Homo sapiens: one gene and its partners. The protein of the gene in region 4 purifies or fractionates together with the protein of the main gene of each other region. This does not show direct contact. Each region holds a gene or a part of one and is shown on either strand. Other genes may lie near its edges.

Region 1 (3,500 bases), on a different chromosome or scaffold from region 4:
CTCTCAGGATTGCTGTAAGGATCAAATGAGATCAAATACGGGTGAAAATGCTAAAATCAAATTAAAGGCACCTCTACATACATGTGCCAAGTGCAAATGCAACGCCTTAGTATCAGGACTGATACTAAGATTTGGATGGCAACATGAATAAAAAGCATACCCAGTCACCACCACGTATTTCCCATCAGGCCGGTGCTTCAGGCGTTCTAGTGCTGACAGCAGAACTTTGGCCTTTGTTTCACCATATAATTCTACCTCTTCAGACAGCAGACCAATTTCTCGAGCCAGCTTACCAATGGGCTTCGGTTTACAAGATCGTGATATATCAATGTCACTTTGGAAACATAGAAAATAGGTATTAATGTTTATCCACTGAGTTTAATTAATCCCACAGTAGTAACAAGCCCCCAACCCAACCCCAACCACTGAAGGCACCTTCAGAGGGAGCATATGTGAACCCACAGTATCTGTCAACTAAAAACCAACAATTCACAAAGTTTTAAATCAGTAAAACTTTATTTTTACCTTGGAACAGGTGTCTTGAGGTTAAGGTTGTTATACTGAATCATCCACTTTCCTGGCTTAAATTTCTCCAGGAAACGCTTGGCACTCTCTACTGTGCTCTAAGCAAAATGAAATAAATGAAACTTAGAAGAGGTGGTTATTTTAATCCTCACCTCAGTTTCAAGCTCCAGGTCACTCCAGTTCAATCACAAAATGAACTGCTTCAGACCCACTTATTACCATGCTTCAATCCTAGCTAAGAGTCAAGAGGCACCTAACATGCTTTGGGGCTGCTCGCCTGGCCCCTGTCAGCTGGTGCATGTTAGAAAGGGAAAACAGGCCGGGCACGGTGGCTCACACCTCTAATCCCAGCACTTTGGAAGGCCAAGGTGGGCGGATCACCTGAGGTCGGGAGTTCCAGACCAGCCTAACCAACGTGGAGAAACCTGTCTCTACTAAAAATACAAAATTCGCCGGGCGTGGTGGTGCACACCTGTAATCCCAGCTACTCAGGAGGCTGAGGCAGGAGAATCACTTGAATCAGGGAGATGGAGGTTGCGGTAAGCCAAGATCACACCATTGCACTCCAGCCTGGGCAGCAAGAGCAAAACTCCGTCTCAAAAAAAAAAAAAAAAAAAGAAAGGGAAGGCAAACCAAAACAGACCTGGCCAAGCCAGTGTGATCGCACTTTTCTTCTTTCAAAGTTATTATATTCCAAAACAGACTGGAATTATGCCATCCCTACTTTCCTCTATTAATGTGCCTGATCTTATTTCTCTATTCTTCCCTTCCCTTTTTCTCAATAAATTCACATCTTTACTTCTGAGTAGGTTTTTGACATTTCTACTTGGGGAGAAAAGCAGCCAAAACTCGATCAGCTTTTCAGAACTCTTATAGAAACTTTTATTCACAATTACCTGCATGAGCATTGCAACTGTCATGGGCCCTACGCCGCCAGGAACAGGAGTGATGAAGCTCGCCCTCTCTTTGGCCTCGTCGTATGCCACATCACCCACAACTTTTCTCCCATTTGGTTTTTTATCATCTGGTCAAGTGGGGGAGAAATCAAAACTAAGTCTCAGAATCACAGTCCTGGTGATCAGTTACGACAAAAACTCAGCAGAATTGTAGGGTGTGTTAGTCCCATCAGGCTCCAGTGCCTACTTAACTTAAAAGCTATGGAATGACAGATGTTTGCTATTTCTTAGGGAGAAAATTATTTTACCTGCAAAAATTCACAAGATGCATAAGTGGTTTTACAGAACCTGGAGAATCCTTTTGTAGTCTCTCAGGTGGCAAATAAAATACCAACTGTTTTTTATTCTTAAAACCAACTACCCAGTATATAATGAGCACCCATTTTAAAATGTTAATTTGCTAAAGCCTACAAAGGAAATTTTTTGGGTGCACAAAGATCCAACTCTGTCACAGCTGCCAGATATCGTTTCTACAGCAACTGTCAGCATTTTGTGAGCTCCATGTGTGAGCTGGAGGAACAATTCAACATCCAATTCCAAAGACACAGCTACTTAAATGTATGCTAAAGGCAAAGAATATAATTACACTTCCCTTAAAAGGACACAAGAACAACTACAAATCTTACCAGCAAAGAATAGCTATTCAAGAGAACAAAACCCAATGATGCATCATTGCTCACTCACACAAAGAACATCCTACACTTGGCTTCAGTGCACTTCCAGGAGGGGCTGGGGGCGGGCCTAGACCTCGAAGCAATAAGGCTCCCGCGCTGCATCTGGTAGTTTTAGCGACATCACCACTTCTCTCTGATCAGATCGCCACAACTGAGAAGAAGCTCCAAGGTGGAGGCAAGAAGCCAGAATTAAGAGATTAGCAGGCACTTTGGGAGGCCGAGGCGGGCGGATCACCAGATCAGGAGATCAAGACCATCCTGGCTAACACAGTGAAACCCCGTCTCTGCTAAAAATACAAAAAAATTAGCTGGGCATGGTGGCGGGCACCTGTAGTCCCAGCTACTTGGGAGGCTGAGGCAGGAGAATGGCATGAACCCGGGGGGCGGAGCTTGCAGTGAGCGGAGATTGCGTCACTGCACTCCAGCCTGGGCAACAGAGCGAGACTCTGTCTCAGAAAAAAAAGAGATTAGCTGTAGCATCAGCTCTTTTATTAAAAATTAGGGCCAGGTGTGGTGGCTCACACCTGTAATGCCAGCACTTTGGGAGGCCAAGGCGGGTGGATCACCTGAGGTCAGGAGTCCGAGACCAGCCTGGCCAGCATGGTGAAACCCCGTCTCTACTAAAAATATTAAAAAATCAGCTGGGCTTGGTAGCGGGCACCTGTAATCCCAGCTGCTCAGAGGCTGAGGCAGGAGACTCACTTGAACCCGGGAGGCGGAGGCTGCAGTGAGCATTCCACTCCAGCCTGGGCAACAAGAGCGAAACTCCGTCTCAAAAAAAAAAGTTAGTTCTGCAGCTCCTGTGGGCTCCATATTAATCTGAAGTCCAAAATGCAAAGAAGGCTTAACACTACCTATCACAAATTTGCTGAGGGCAAAATGAGAAAATGTGTACATTACTGAAATTGAAAAAGCAGCCTCCAAACGCAAGAGTTTCTCTTTCCACCACAGATACGTAAGATATTTTTTATATGGAGTAAAAGGAGCTGGTCAACACAACTCATTGGGATGGTTTCAAGTTTCTAGAAGATTATAAAGCAGCAAACTGGCAGAACATTTCCTCTTACAGCCCCTAGAGTCATTTCAAAATGCCAAGGAAATATAGATAGAGGTTTGCCCTCTGTACAAGTTTCAATCGTCTTCACACTGTAGTTAGCTTGAAATACCCGCTGCATCTATTTCTACGTGTTAATGTTAGTCATTTTCGTTTTCCCACAGGTAAGAGACACATATCTTTGACTACATGACTAAACGCAGCACTGGTGAGTTCAGTTTTGCTCCTAAACCAAATACTGTCAGGGTTGACGAGACACTGCTAAACATGCAGTGCTTCGTGGATAGGATG
Region 2 (2,952 bases), about 120 Mb from region 4:
GTCATCCAGGCTAGAGTGCAGTGTTGTGATCATGGCTCACTGCAGCCTCAACCCCCCCAGGTTCAAGCGATCCTCCCACTTCAGCCTCCTGAGTAGTTGGGACCACAGGCATGTGCCACTGTGCCCAGCTAATTCTTTGTTTTTTGGGTTTTTTTGTTTTGTTTGGGTGTGTGTGTGTGTTTGTGTGTGTGCAGATAGGGGATCTCTTTATGTTGCCCAGGCTAGTCTCGAACTCCTGGGTTCAAGTGATCCTCTCTCCTTAGCCTCCCGAAATTCTGGAATTAGAGGTGTGAGCTACCTCGCCCAGCCCTCTTTTAAGTTTTTGTTTATCTGGGAATGTCTTAATTTCTCCTTAAGGCTAGTTTTGCTGGATGTAGAATTCTTGGTTTATAGTCTTTGTCTCATCATTTCGAATATGTCCTCCCACCACTTTCTGGCCTCTGGTTTCTACTGAGAAGCCAACTAGTTTCTGATAAGGATCCTTTGTACACACTGAGTCATTTTTCTGTCACTGCTTTCAAGATTTTGTGGCTTTTGACAGTTTCGATTATGATGTGTCTATGTGTGGATCTCTGAGTTTATCCTACATGGAGTTTGTTGAGCTTCTTGGAGGTGCAGAATAATTCATATTTTGGGGAAGTTTTCAACAAGTTTGGGAAGGTTTTGGCCATGTTTCTTTCTGCCTCATTTCTCTCTGCTCTCCTTCTGACACTACCACTGTGTATCTGATGTTGCATTTAATGGTATCCCACAGGTCTTCAAGGCTCTGTTCATTTTCCCTCATTCTTCTTTTTTTGTTCTGTTTCTTAGACTAATCTCAGTGAACTTATCTTCAAATTTAGTGATTTTCTTCTGCCTGATCAAATCTGAGCACCTCTAGAGAATTTTTACTATATTTTTCAACTCCAGAATTTTTATTTCCTTCTTCTAAAAAATTATTTCTCTCTTTTTATTGATACTCTCTATTTGGTGATTCTCATATTTTCCTGAAGTTCTTTTTATGTGGTTTCCTTTATTTCTTTGAATGTTTAAAATAGCCAATTTAGAGTCTTTTTGTCTAATGTTTGAGTTTCCTCTGGGACAGTTTTCTACTGACTCCCTTATCCCCAAAGTGTGAGCCATACCTTCTGGTTTCTTTGTACTTTTTTGTTGAAAACCAGACATTTTATTTGGTCAGTGGGGTCTCACTGTATCACCCAGGCTGGAATAGTAAGTAGCACAGCCACAGCTCACTGCAGCCTTAAACTGCTGGGCTCAAGTGATCCTCTTGCCTCAGTAGCTGGGACCATAGGTGTGCACCACCATGCCCAACTAAAGTTTTGTTTTTTTGTTTTTTCTTTTCTTTTTTTTTCTTTCTTTTTTTTTTTGTAGTGATGAGGTCTTGCTTTATTGCCTAGGCTGGTCAACTCCTGGCTTCAAGTAGTCCTCCCACCTTGGCCTCCCAATGTGTTGGGATTACAGGTGTAAGCCACCACATCTAGCCACAACCAGACATTTTAAATTATATAATATGGCAACTCTGCTTTGGAAGTTACTCTGGAAATTAAACCTCCCTAGGGTTTATTGTTGTTGCTGTTTGTTACTGTTGGTAGGTTGTTTAGTAACTTTTTTGACTAATTCTATAAAGTCTGTATCTTTGTCACATGTGGGCACTGAAGTCTCTGCTCTGTTAGTTTTGTGGTTAATGATTGGAAAGAAATTTCCTTAAATGCTGGGTAGTAGTCTCCCAGTCTACGGGTGAATAATAATCATAAATAAAAATAAAAGTTGGGGCAAGCCCTCAGTTCAACACTTAGCCATGCAATTTACAAGCCTTAGCCTTCATTTCCTGCTCGCACAGAGCCTCCAGGTCATGCAGAGGTGGGAGCTATGGTCTCTGAGCATGTCTGCAGCCTTCTGAGTTCCTAGGAGTTACATACTTAAGGTTTTCAGAGCCCTCTACAGACATGTCATTTCCCAGCTAGCTTTTCCATTGAAGGGTTTGGGTTAGTCTGTCTGCCGCAGCTGTTACCCAGTGTCTCAGGTAGCTAAGGTGATTGGTAATTTCTTCCGATTGTTTTTGATAAATGCCCTGGGGAAAGAGGTGGTTCATAGTAGACAGGCTTCCAGTCAGGTTAAATAAAGACAACCTTGCAAATGGGTCCTTCCAGGGAGCCACCAGACAGGTGGTCAGATGACAGTTCTCCGGGAATGGCACTTGGAAGGAGCCCTAGCCCTGTTCTCTCTCCGGTGGCTGCCAGGCTGTTGATTTTTGAAGCTACTAATTATCGCCTGGAGGGGAAGGGGTTGGAATTTAGGAGTAGGACATGTTAAAATGCTGCCAGGCTCAACATTCTTACCAATAATCACCTGGTTTTCTTGCATAAATGCTCTCTGGATTGCTGCAAGTATGGTTTTATTTCTAGTTTTTAAAAAGCTGATTTTGATCAGTGTTAACAGTAGAGACAGTTTTCTGCGGTCCCTTCTCTGCCATTTTCACTAACATCACTCTTCCTTTGTGGAAAAGCATTGTTTCCTATGCCAGTTGCTGATTTATATGTTTGCTTGACCTTAAATGAATCTGAGTTTCATTATTTTATTTTCATCAGCAGCATTATGTATGTATATGCTTTGGTACTTTCACCCATATTGCCTCCTTTGTCTAAGAGGCTGACATGCACCTTACTACATCAGTCAAGGAACCATGTTAATTTTCTTTTCCTTACAAAAATGCACATCATTTACATTTACTCTTTTGATAAAGGCAGTTGAAGATGACTTTGTGGAAATGCGGAAGAACGACCCTCAGAGCATCACTGCTGATGATCTTCACCAGCTGCTCGTGGTGGCTCGGTAAGTGGCGCACGTCCATTATTGCTGTTTCGGTAAGCTTGTGTATATGTCTTCTGAGTTATTCAGCAGTAACTGAGGCAGAATTCTAAAAACGGAAATGAACTTTTCCTTTTAAAAACG
Region 3 (3,500 bases), on a different chromosome or scaffold from region 4:
GAGCCAGTGATGATGACTGTTAGCGGTGAGAGCTGGCACGTGAGGGAACGAGGACTCAAACTCTCGTGTGACTCCAGATCCCACACCATTGTCCATCACAGTCCACACCACTTTTCTTCCCCCTGCTTGCCTTAGATAAATCTAAGATCCCTTCAAACTTCCGGTACCTTCCAGTTGGGAAACAGGAGAGGCCCTGGTCATAGGATGCAGCACATGGTGGCCTGCTGGAATGCTGGGGGTACAAACAACGGGAAGGTGGCCGTGGACACCTCCATGCCTAGAAGCTGGTCAGGAAGCTGCCCTCATCACCACTCGAGTGCACAAGATGAGGAAGCGGCAGACGGACTGGGGAGGGGACTTCCTGAGGCCCCATCTGTTCCTCTTCCTCCACCGCACCACACTTCCCATCCAGTTTCCAACTTCCACACCCAACTCATTTCCCCAACATCCAGATGAGCAGTTTTGCATCAACATTTTTATTGAAATACAAAAAGTGCAAACGGTGAAATACATGATTGGTGCCAAGGAAGTCATTAAGTGTGAATGTGAACACTGGATTCACACAGTACAAGCACCCGCTCCCTGGGGTACAGACCAGTGGGGGACATGAGAAAGACCAAATAGATCCGAAAGGCTCCCCAGTGAATGGGGCTGTGAGCGACACTTGATACACAAAGGAGGGCGGAGAGCAGAGCAGCCCTGGCCGAGGCTAGAGACCAAGGGACTGATGAAGAACCAGCAGCAGCCCAGGCCCCAGGGGGCTGGATGCACTGCTGATGGTCTTGGGAGAGCCCAGCGAAGTTATGCCCAGGCCCAGCCTGGCTTGCGGATGGGGCTGGGCTGGTCAGTGAGGATCCCCACAGTACGGGCTCTGGAATCATCCTGCCTGGCCAAGGTCATGGGGGCAGGGTCACTGCAGGTACTTCCCTGTACTCCCCAAGGACAAGGCTGCAGGAAGAGGGATCCCCAGGAAGGAGTGTAATTCTACGAGACAGTGGGAGTGAGATCAGCCATCACTGGGGCCGAGGTTCTTTGAAAGACAACAGGGCTGGCCGGGTGCAGTGGCTCACGCCTGGAATCCCAGCACTTTGGGAGGCCGAGGTGGGTGGATCATGAGGTCAGGAGATCGAGACCATCCTGGCCAACATGGTGAAACCCCGTCTCTACTAAAAATACAAAAATTAGCTGGGCATGGTGGCATGCACCTATAGTCCCAGCTACTCAGGAGGCTGAGGCAGGAGAATTGCTTGAACCCAGAAGGCGGAGGTGTGCCGAGATCGCGCCACTGCACTCCAGCCTGGTGACAGAGCGAGACTCCATCTCAGAAAAAAAAAAAAAAAGGTGGCCCTAGAGCCCCTTAATCCCCTGGGGAAATTGCTAGAACCCACCTATCTGGACTGACCTATCAGCACAATCTCTGCCCCTCCTACGGGCACTCTTAGTCTCTACCCCAGCCCCTTTAAGAGTCCCCCAGCTGGAGGAAGGAGCCATAAGATCCTGAGGCACTGAGTCACCTCTGGCTGGGGCAGGGGCCAGTGTGACTCCGTAACAGACAGGTCCACAAGAACATGAAGGCTGATGATCTGCCCGTGTGGGAAAGGAGGCCAAGAGGGGAGAGGCTAACCTGGCCGGTCACTGATTCCATCACACGCTGTAGCTCTCGGGGGCGGGGAGGTGGAGAGGGAGGTTTCAAGTGGATGCTGGGACTCTGAGCCATGTCATCCAAGCTACCAGTCCCTGCACAACCAAGGGGTTAGGACACCCCAGGGGCAGTATCACTTGGGAAAGGCTGACCCAGGATGTGTGGAAGAGGAGGCAGAAAGCAGACACAGTCTCCAGCCCTGTCACTCCTCAGCAGGGGAAATACCCCAGACTGCGCTGCTGGGGGCAGTACAGGAGCAAGGGTGCTTGCACTCAGGCCTTCATGCAGTGGGGCTTCTGCAAAGCAGGGCAGCCTACCAGATAGGGAGGCACCTCAGCTTGGGGCGGTGTCCACACCAAAGAGCTCAGCTGCTCATTCCCAGCAATCAAGAGGGGAGGACTGGCCCCTGCTACCAGCCCAGCCGGCAGTCATTTGATTCATCCACACTTGCTAGGGAAACAGAGGCAGGAAAAAGCAGGAAAGGGGTTACTGGGGCTCAGTCCTTCTCCAGCTGGAAGAGCCAAGCCCAGCTCTGGAGAGCCCAGCAAAAGCCCGGTGTCCAGAGAGGCAGTGAGAAGTGTAAGGCAGAGAAAAACGTCTTCTGGTAACAGCGAGGCCGCCAGGGCCGTGAGGCGGGCTGGACAGAGGTGGGGGAGAGCATGCCTGATGGGTGGCTCCAACATCTCTCTCCAGGGGGCTTCATGGCCCCTGATGCCAGGAGGAAGAGTCCAAACCCGGGCTACCAGAGAAGGGGCTGGTGGGGCAGGGGCCAGGTTCAGAGCCCGCTGGGGTCCGGGCTTGGGAACAGCTCCCCTTGGTGATCCAGAAGGAACTTGGTGAAGGTGTTGATGGGATTAATGGCCTTGAGGGTGATGGCCGCATCCTTGGCCCACAGCAGGTTAGGGCCGAAAACAACAGCCAGGTTAGTGTTGGTCATCTTGTTCTGGTCACTGTGTGCAGAAATCTGTGGAGGGAATCAGGGACTGCAGCAGGAAGCCACAGATGCTGCCTCCCACTCCCAGCAACAATGACCAGGGCGCAGAGGAGGCGGCAGCTCCTCCTTCCCCCTCCCTTCACCCCAGAGGCCAAGTCCAAGGTCTCACCTGCACCAGGAAAGCAGTCAGGAAACGAAGCACCTGGTAGTTCTCCTCGGGCAGCGTCTGGAGGACCTGCAGTGTCGCTGGCACCCTCTGGCTTTCATCAATGTCTATGAGGAAAGGAGGCCCGGGTTATAGGGGCCCTAGGCTGGGCTGGTTCAGGACGCTCTGATGCAGGCTAGAGGGGAGACCCCCAGCAGTCTTCCCTGGGAGGCGCCTAGGCCCGAAAGCCTGCAGCGCACCTGCCCCAAGTCCAGCCCCAGGCCCAACAGAAGAGATGGGGACTCACTGAGGAAGCCCACCACATGGGGGTAGAGGTCAAAGGTGAGCAGGGGCTCAGGAAGCTCCCGGAGGAAGGTCTTGAGGATGACTGCTGGCAGGTGCAGCTCATTGTACTGGTCGAAATCCACAGGCAGCCCTGGGGTGGGGGCAGCGTGAGAGAAGCTCGGCACAGCCTGAAGGGCAGCACCCATCTGCAGACAACGCGGGCCGCACTGCCTGACTGCCCCTGGACACTGCATAAGCCCCTCCTCCCAGGGGCGCCCTCTGACACCTGCCTCCCTCTTCCTCTGTGATCAGAGAATGCAGGTTCCGGCCATCTGGGGAAGTGGGGCCCGGCACACCCCACCGTTATTCCTTGCCTCTGAATGTGCCTATACCCAGGACCCGGGAGCCCGACCGATGAGGCAGCAGGCCTGGCAGAAGTAGGACTTATGTGACACCCAGAGCCACGGAAACCTCCAGCAGGAAGAGACTCTGAG
Region 4 (5,443 bases):
TACACATGCATATACACACATGCACACACACTAACATGCACACACACTACCTCACAAAAACATGCACACACGTACAAACATGCATGCACACAAACATGCACACACATACATGCAGACATACTACCACAAACATGCATACTCATGCATATAAACATACACATACATGCAGACCCAAACTACCTCACAAACATGCACACACATGCATAAATATATGCATAAACCTGCATGTATATGCATATACAGAGATACACATGCACACACATATACATACATACACACAGAGACACAAGCCTGCGCACACACTCACACACATACACACAAATACTATTTTCTCCCTTGGGCTTTTGGAAATTATGTTTACAAGGTGACTTTCAACAAGTCCCTGACTTGATTGCTTCACGACTTCTTTGTGTGTGTTAAGAGGCAACAAAACAGGAGTCACGAATCATGAATGAACTCTGAAAAATAAAACAACAGCTGGGCGTGGTGGCTCATGCCTGTAATCCCAGCACTTTGGGAGGCCGAGGTGGATGGATCACAAGGTCAGGAGATCCAGACCATCCTGGCTAACACGGTGAAACCCCACCTCTACTAAAAATACAAAAAAAAAAAAAAAAAAAAAAAATTAGCCAGGCGTGGTGGTGGGCACCTGTAGTCCCAGCTACTCGGAAGGCTGAGGCAGGAGAATGGCGTGAACCCAGGAGGCGGAGCTTGCAGTGAGCCAAGATCACGCCACTGCACTCTAGCCTGGGCAACAGTGAGACTCCGTCTCTAAATAAATAAATTAATTAATTAAATAACTTCAAATGCAGCTAACTCCACAGCCACCTCCACTACTGAACCAATGCCTGAAAAGCTGGAACTGCTTTTCCCTTTGTTCATTTGCAGGCAGACAGTTCCCTGGCCCAAGAAGGGTGGGTGTATCTTCGGGTGACCAGAGCTTTCCCTGTGTCCCATCACAGACCTGAATGTCCTTGGGGATAGGAGGACAGGAAATGGCTGAAACTGGAGAAGTTTGGGAAGGTCCCACCTTCCCCTACAAAATACCACCCTGTAGATCTCTCTCACGCCCGCCTCCCTGCCTCCCTGCCCCCTCTGCCCCATGGGTCTCTCTCACGCCCGCCTCCCTGCAGTCTGTCCACGGATCTCTCTCTCTCGGCTGCCTCCCTGCACTCTGTCCTTCTGCAGCACCTGGTGCACTGGGGCCACCTGGATCCTCGACTGTTGAGGATCCCGATGCTCTAGACCCCCACTCAGGGGAGGTTACGACTATGTGCCACACAGATGGATGGTAACTTAGAAAACCAAAGAGCGAAGACGGCGCAGGCTCTGCAGGTGTGGGAGAGAACATAAGCCTTCTCCCTCCCCACGGGCAGCTCACCTCCTTCTCAGAAAGGCCGTGTAATGCATCGTGCACCGACGAGACACCCAAGGTGCCCAGGCTGGCCTGACAAGCAGCTTCTGTCCCAGCCGTCTCCGCCCTGCCCTTGGCCATGGGCTGCCCACTCACCATCTGCACGCACTCCATCAGCGGCAGGCGCACGGCGTGGTTCCCGTTCAGTGACACGACGCAAGCTGGGGTGTCCGGGGTGGCCTCTAGCAAGGCGATGACTGCCTCCACTCCCATGCGGCTGGCCTGGAAACCAGGTCCATGTGGGTCAGGGGCAGCCTCCCGTCCTGCCCTGTCCCTGTCACCTCCTATCTTTCCATGACGTCCAATGACCTCAGTCAGGTGCTCACAGCCCCTCCCGCTTCCAGCCCAACTCTTTAGAGCAAAGCGATTTCCACTCCTTTAGAACTGGCAAGACGGGAACAGAGAGGAGGTCAGGGCACATGGAGAGCAGGAGTGTTAAGAACTGAGGGTTTGTACTTGGGATTCCTGCTGCCCTGAGTCAGTTTCCAGAAACTCACTAGAAACACAGCCTTTCTGCCCTGGGATTGTGCCCTCTGGGGTCCACGTCGTGCCAACACCAAGCACTGCCTTCCCACATTAGGGAGCTCTCCCCGCATCTGAATGGCTGCAGGCCTAGAGACTGGTCTACACCAAAGGTCTCAAGGATCGTTAAGATGAGGGCCGGGCCGCGGGCATCTCTCGGGGAGCACCTTGCCAGCCTCTGTGGCCGGCTGGTGCCTGTGCCTCTCCAGAAACGCTTCCTCCTAGAGACCTTGTGAAGATGCCCAACCCTTCCCAACTCACCAAGATCCTGTCGAATGCCGAAGGGGTCCCTCCTCTCTGCACGTGCCCGAGGATGGTCACACGTGTGTCATAGCCCAGCTGCGTGACGACAAGCTGCAAGGAAACATCTCGTTAGGATGCGGAACTGTGATGCGGACACAGCAGCCCAGATCTGGAAGGAGGTACTGGGCACTGGAAAAGGTTTTTCGCTCTTTCTTCAGATCTAAATGGGAAAAGTTATTTCTAAATTTTGTTTCCTAGCAGAACGTTTAGTGTATATAACAGGCAGCTGAAAATTGGTTTTAAAAATAATACTGTTGTTACCAGACAAGATCTTGGCTCGCACCTAGAAAATGAATACAAGTAATATGTTCGTTGCTTTAAAAAAGAAAAATAAAAAAGTAACGTTTCAGTAGCTTGCATTTAAACTATTACTTATATTTTACAAAAAATGTAAACATCTTCCTTGAACCAGCTTTAATTTGTTCAGCTGTGATTTGAACAGCACAAGCCAGCCCAATCAAGGCGTTCCCCTCGCCCCAGCCCATGGGCACACCGGCCCGGTGATCTGGAGAGGCCACTGACTGTCTCTGGAACTCAGCTTATTCCTCTGTAAGGACAGTGGGGCTGGGCTACGTAAATTCCTTGGTTCCTTCTCGGTCCATTGTCCTATAATTTAATTACAGTTAAGCGGGAAATAAAATCTTTGCCTGGACTTTATGGATGACCACTTATAAATATTGGCAGATGTCTTTCCCAGGTGTCCATCACTGTTTTCATATCCAGAGATATGCTTTGCTCCTTAACTGACCATAACAAAGCACAATAAAGAAGCCGACTTGCAAAGCCAGGTGGGGACGTCTTCTGCCCCGTGGCTGCTGGAGCCACAGCCCATCCCCAGCCCCGGCAGCCTGCAGCCCCGTCTACAGCAGGGGCACAGCCCATGGTATCAGAGTCCTCTCCAGACAGGCAGGCACTGGCCTGAGCAAGTCCCAGGGCACGAAGCCTGCCAAAGCCTGCCAAAGCCTGTTCCCAGGCAGGGCCACGAGGACACAGTGGCTTTGTAAGAATGTGCTCAGCTGATGCTCTGGGTTATGGGAGGGCACAGGGAATAGCAAGACGCCGCCTTTTCCCACTGTGGCAAACAGAAGCCCGGGTCGGCTGCCAAGTGGTCAGTCCTCATTCTCAGAGCAGCTCATGTTTAAGAGCCGGAACATTCTAATCCAAAGAACACGCGTGGCCACTCGAGCTGACCCCCTCTGTCTGCTGGGGAGTCCCGGAACCTCTACGGGCTCGGCAAGAGGTGACGTAAGCGGAATGGGCTCCCAGGAGCGGGAGCTGCGTGTTTCCCCTGCCGTCCAACTTCTGAGTCATTATGAAAATGTTTTAAATATCAAGGATAAAAAGTTAATAATTCAATGTTCTAAACCAAGCCTGCCCATGACGCTAGCCTCCCCTGCTTCCAGGCAGAAACCGAGAGAAAGTGAGCAGCTACACACACTCACCTCTTTGATTTTCTCAGAGGTGATGGGTTTATTTTGGGTATCAATTGCTCCTTCAGCCACAATAATAATATTCAGCCTTTTTTTCCGGGCACGGTTCTGTGGAGACAGAAAATTAAAGCTCTCAAATTCCTAATCCTGTTCTTAGCAACAAATGCAACAAAACCACAGAAGTCTGTCTCAAACTGAACTGGCCTCTTTCTGGGCAGGAATCTTTGCCTAACTTCCTAAGAGCTGCTTCCCAATGACATCAGAAGGTGGTGAAAGGTGTGCTGGGTGACAGCAGGGAGGGACAGGGGTGAGAGGAGGGGCAGGGGCGAGGAGAGGGGCAGGGGTGAAGGGGCAGGGGCAGGGTGAGGAGAGGGGCAGGGGTGAAGGGGCAGTGCAGGGGAGAGGAGAGGGGCAGGGGCGAAGGGGCAGGGGCGAGGAGGGGGCAGGGGTGAAGGGGCAGGGCAGGGGCGAGGAGAGGGGCAGGGGTGAAGGGGCAGGGGCGAGGAGAGGGGCAGGGGTGAAGGGGCAGGGGCGAGGAGAGGGGCAGGGGTGAAGGGGCAGGGGCGAGGAGAGGGGCAGGGGTGAAGGGGCAGGGGCAGGGGTGAGGAGAGGGGCAGGGGTGAGGACAGGGGTAGGGGTGAGGACAGGGGCAGGGGTGAGGAGAGGGGCAGGGGTGAGGAGAGGGGCAGGGGTGAAGGGGCAGTGGCAGGGGTGAGGAGAGGGGCAGGGGTGAAGGAGCAGGGCGGCTGTGGCTCACTGGAAGAGAGCTCTTTGGGACTGGGAGCTCACATCACCACCGCAGATAGAAATGTGGCCCCCAGTCAGCCCCAGGTGGAGGGTGCTGGTGTGATTGACAGGGGTTCCCATGGGGAAGGACACACAGGTGGACGCCCCACAGGCGCCCCGTGCACGCCATGCTTTCTGCCTCCCATGGGGAAGGACACACAGGTGGACGCCCCACAGGCGCCCCGTGCACGCCATGCTTTCTGCCTCCCATGGGGAAGGACACACAGGTGGACGCCCCACAGGCGCCCCGTGCACGCCATGCTTTCTGCCTCCCATGGGGAAGGACACACAGGTGGACGCCCCACAGGCGCCCCGTGCACGCCATGCTTTCTGCCTCCCTCCAGAGTTTCCTGCCATCTCCCTGTGAACCACTCCTCCCCGGCCCTCCCAGGGGAGGCCCCGAAGCCTGGCCACTGGGATGAGGTTGTATTGCACACAGGCTCCAGCAGCAGAGAGTCGGGAGAGAGAAAACGGCGTGAGCGGACACAGGGCCCAGACAGTGGGTTTCTGGCAGCTGCAGCTGCACCCGAAAGGCCTCACACTGCTGGGCCACCGTGGCTGCTGTCCCCGTCGTCCTTCCTATGCTCACGGCAGTCACGTGAGCCTAAAGAGGTCATGAAAGGAACATAGCGACCACTCCATGATGTGGATTAACTCATCCTCAATGGACTCGCTTTCTATTAAGCCCCAAATTAAAGACCCACCCATAGAAAATGATAGGGGTGGCTGTGTGGAGCCTGGAGCCAACAGTGCCTGAAGTCTGCCTGCCGGAGTTAGGCACGCATGGGGCATTCTAACCAGGCTCACTCTGTCTCAGCCTCAGGTCTTAAATGAAACCTCTTCTGCCTTGAGTCTCAGCCTTCATAGAGGAAAACATGCCCCACGCTCACAGTCCATAGAGTGAAATACAAAGTGTGACAAACTGGAGACAGAGAAATTTTTTCACTTGCTTAAAATGCCGTCCCACTTGGGATCCTGATTAAAGCAA

The links. The genes of interacting proteins can lie anywhere in the genome.
Region 1: the proteins of PFKP (region 4) and MTHFD1 fractionate together in Homo sapiens (co-fractionation; one large-scale study listed by BioGRID). This does not show direct contact.
Region 2: the proteins of PFKP (region 4) and MCMBP fractionate together in Homo sapiens (co-fractionation; one large-scale study listed by BioGRID). This does not show direct contact.
Region 3: the proteins of PFKP (region 4) and ARHGAP1 fractionate together in Homo sapiens (co-fractionation; one large-scale study listed by BioGRID). This does not show direct contact.

Annotation. Positions count from the first base shown.
Region 1 is NC_000014.9:64,422,853-64,426,352, reverse strand, and holds part of MTHFD1 (C-1-tetrahydrofolate synthase, cytoplasmic), read right to left. Parts: intron 1,550-3,500; coding exon 1,422-1,549; intron 624-1,421; coding exon 526-623; intron 335-525; coding exon 161-334; intron 1-160. UniProt on the Homo sapiens protein: Trifunctional enzyme that catalyzes the interconversion of three forms of one-carbon-substituted tetrahydrofolate: (6R)-5,10-methylene-5,6,7,8-tetrahydrofolate, 5,10-methenyltetrahydrofolate and (6S)-10-formyltetrahydrofolate.
Region 2 is NC_000010.11:119,831,892-119,834,843, reverse strand, and holds part of MCMBP (mini-chromosome maintenance complex-binding protein), read left to right. Parts: intron 1-2,743; coding exon 2,744-2,832; intron 2,833-2,952. UniProt on the Homo sapiens protein: Associated component of the MCM complex that acts as a regulator of DNA replication.
Region 3 is NC_000011.10:46,676,620-46,680,119, forward strand, and holds the end of ARHGAP1 (rho GTPase-activating protein 1), read right to left. Parts: intron 3,158-3,500; coding exon 3,029-3,157; intron 2,850-3,028; coding exon 2,746-2,849; intron 2,607-2,745; coding exon 2,418-2,606; 3' UTR 461-2,417; downstream 1-460. UniProt on the Homo sapiens protein: GTPase activator for the Rho, Rac and Cdc42 proteins, converting them to the putatively inactive GDP-bound state. Cdc42 seems to be the preferred substrate.
Region 4 is NC_000010.11:3,105,548-3,110,990, reverse strand, and holds part of PFKP (ATP-dependent 6-phosphofructokinase, platelet type), read right to left. Parts: intron 3,778-5,443; coding exon 3,682-3,777; intron 2,291-3,681; coding exon 2,198-2,290; intron 1,637-2,197; coding exon 1,511-1,636; intron 1-1,510. UniProt on the Homo sapiens protein: Catalyzes the phosphorylation of D-fructose 6-phosphate to fructose 1,6-bisphosphate by ATP, the first committing step of glycolysis.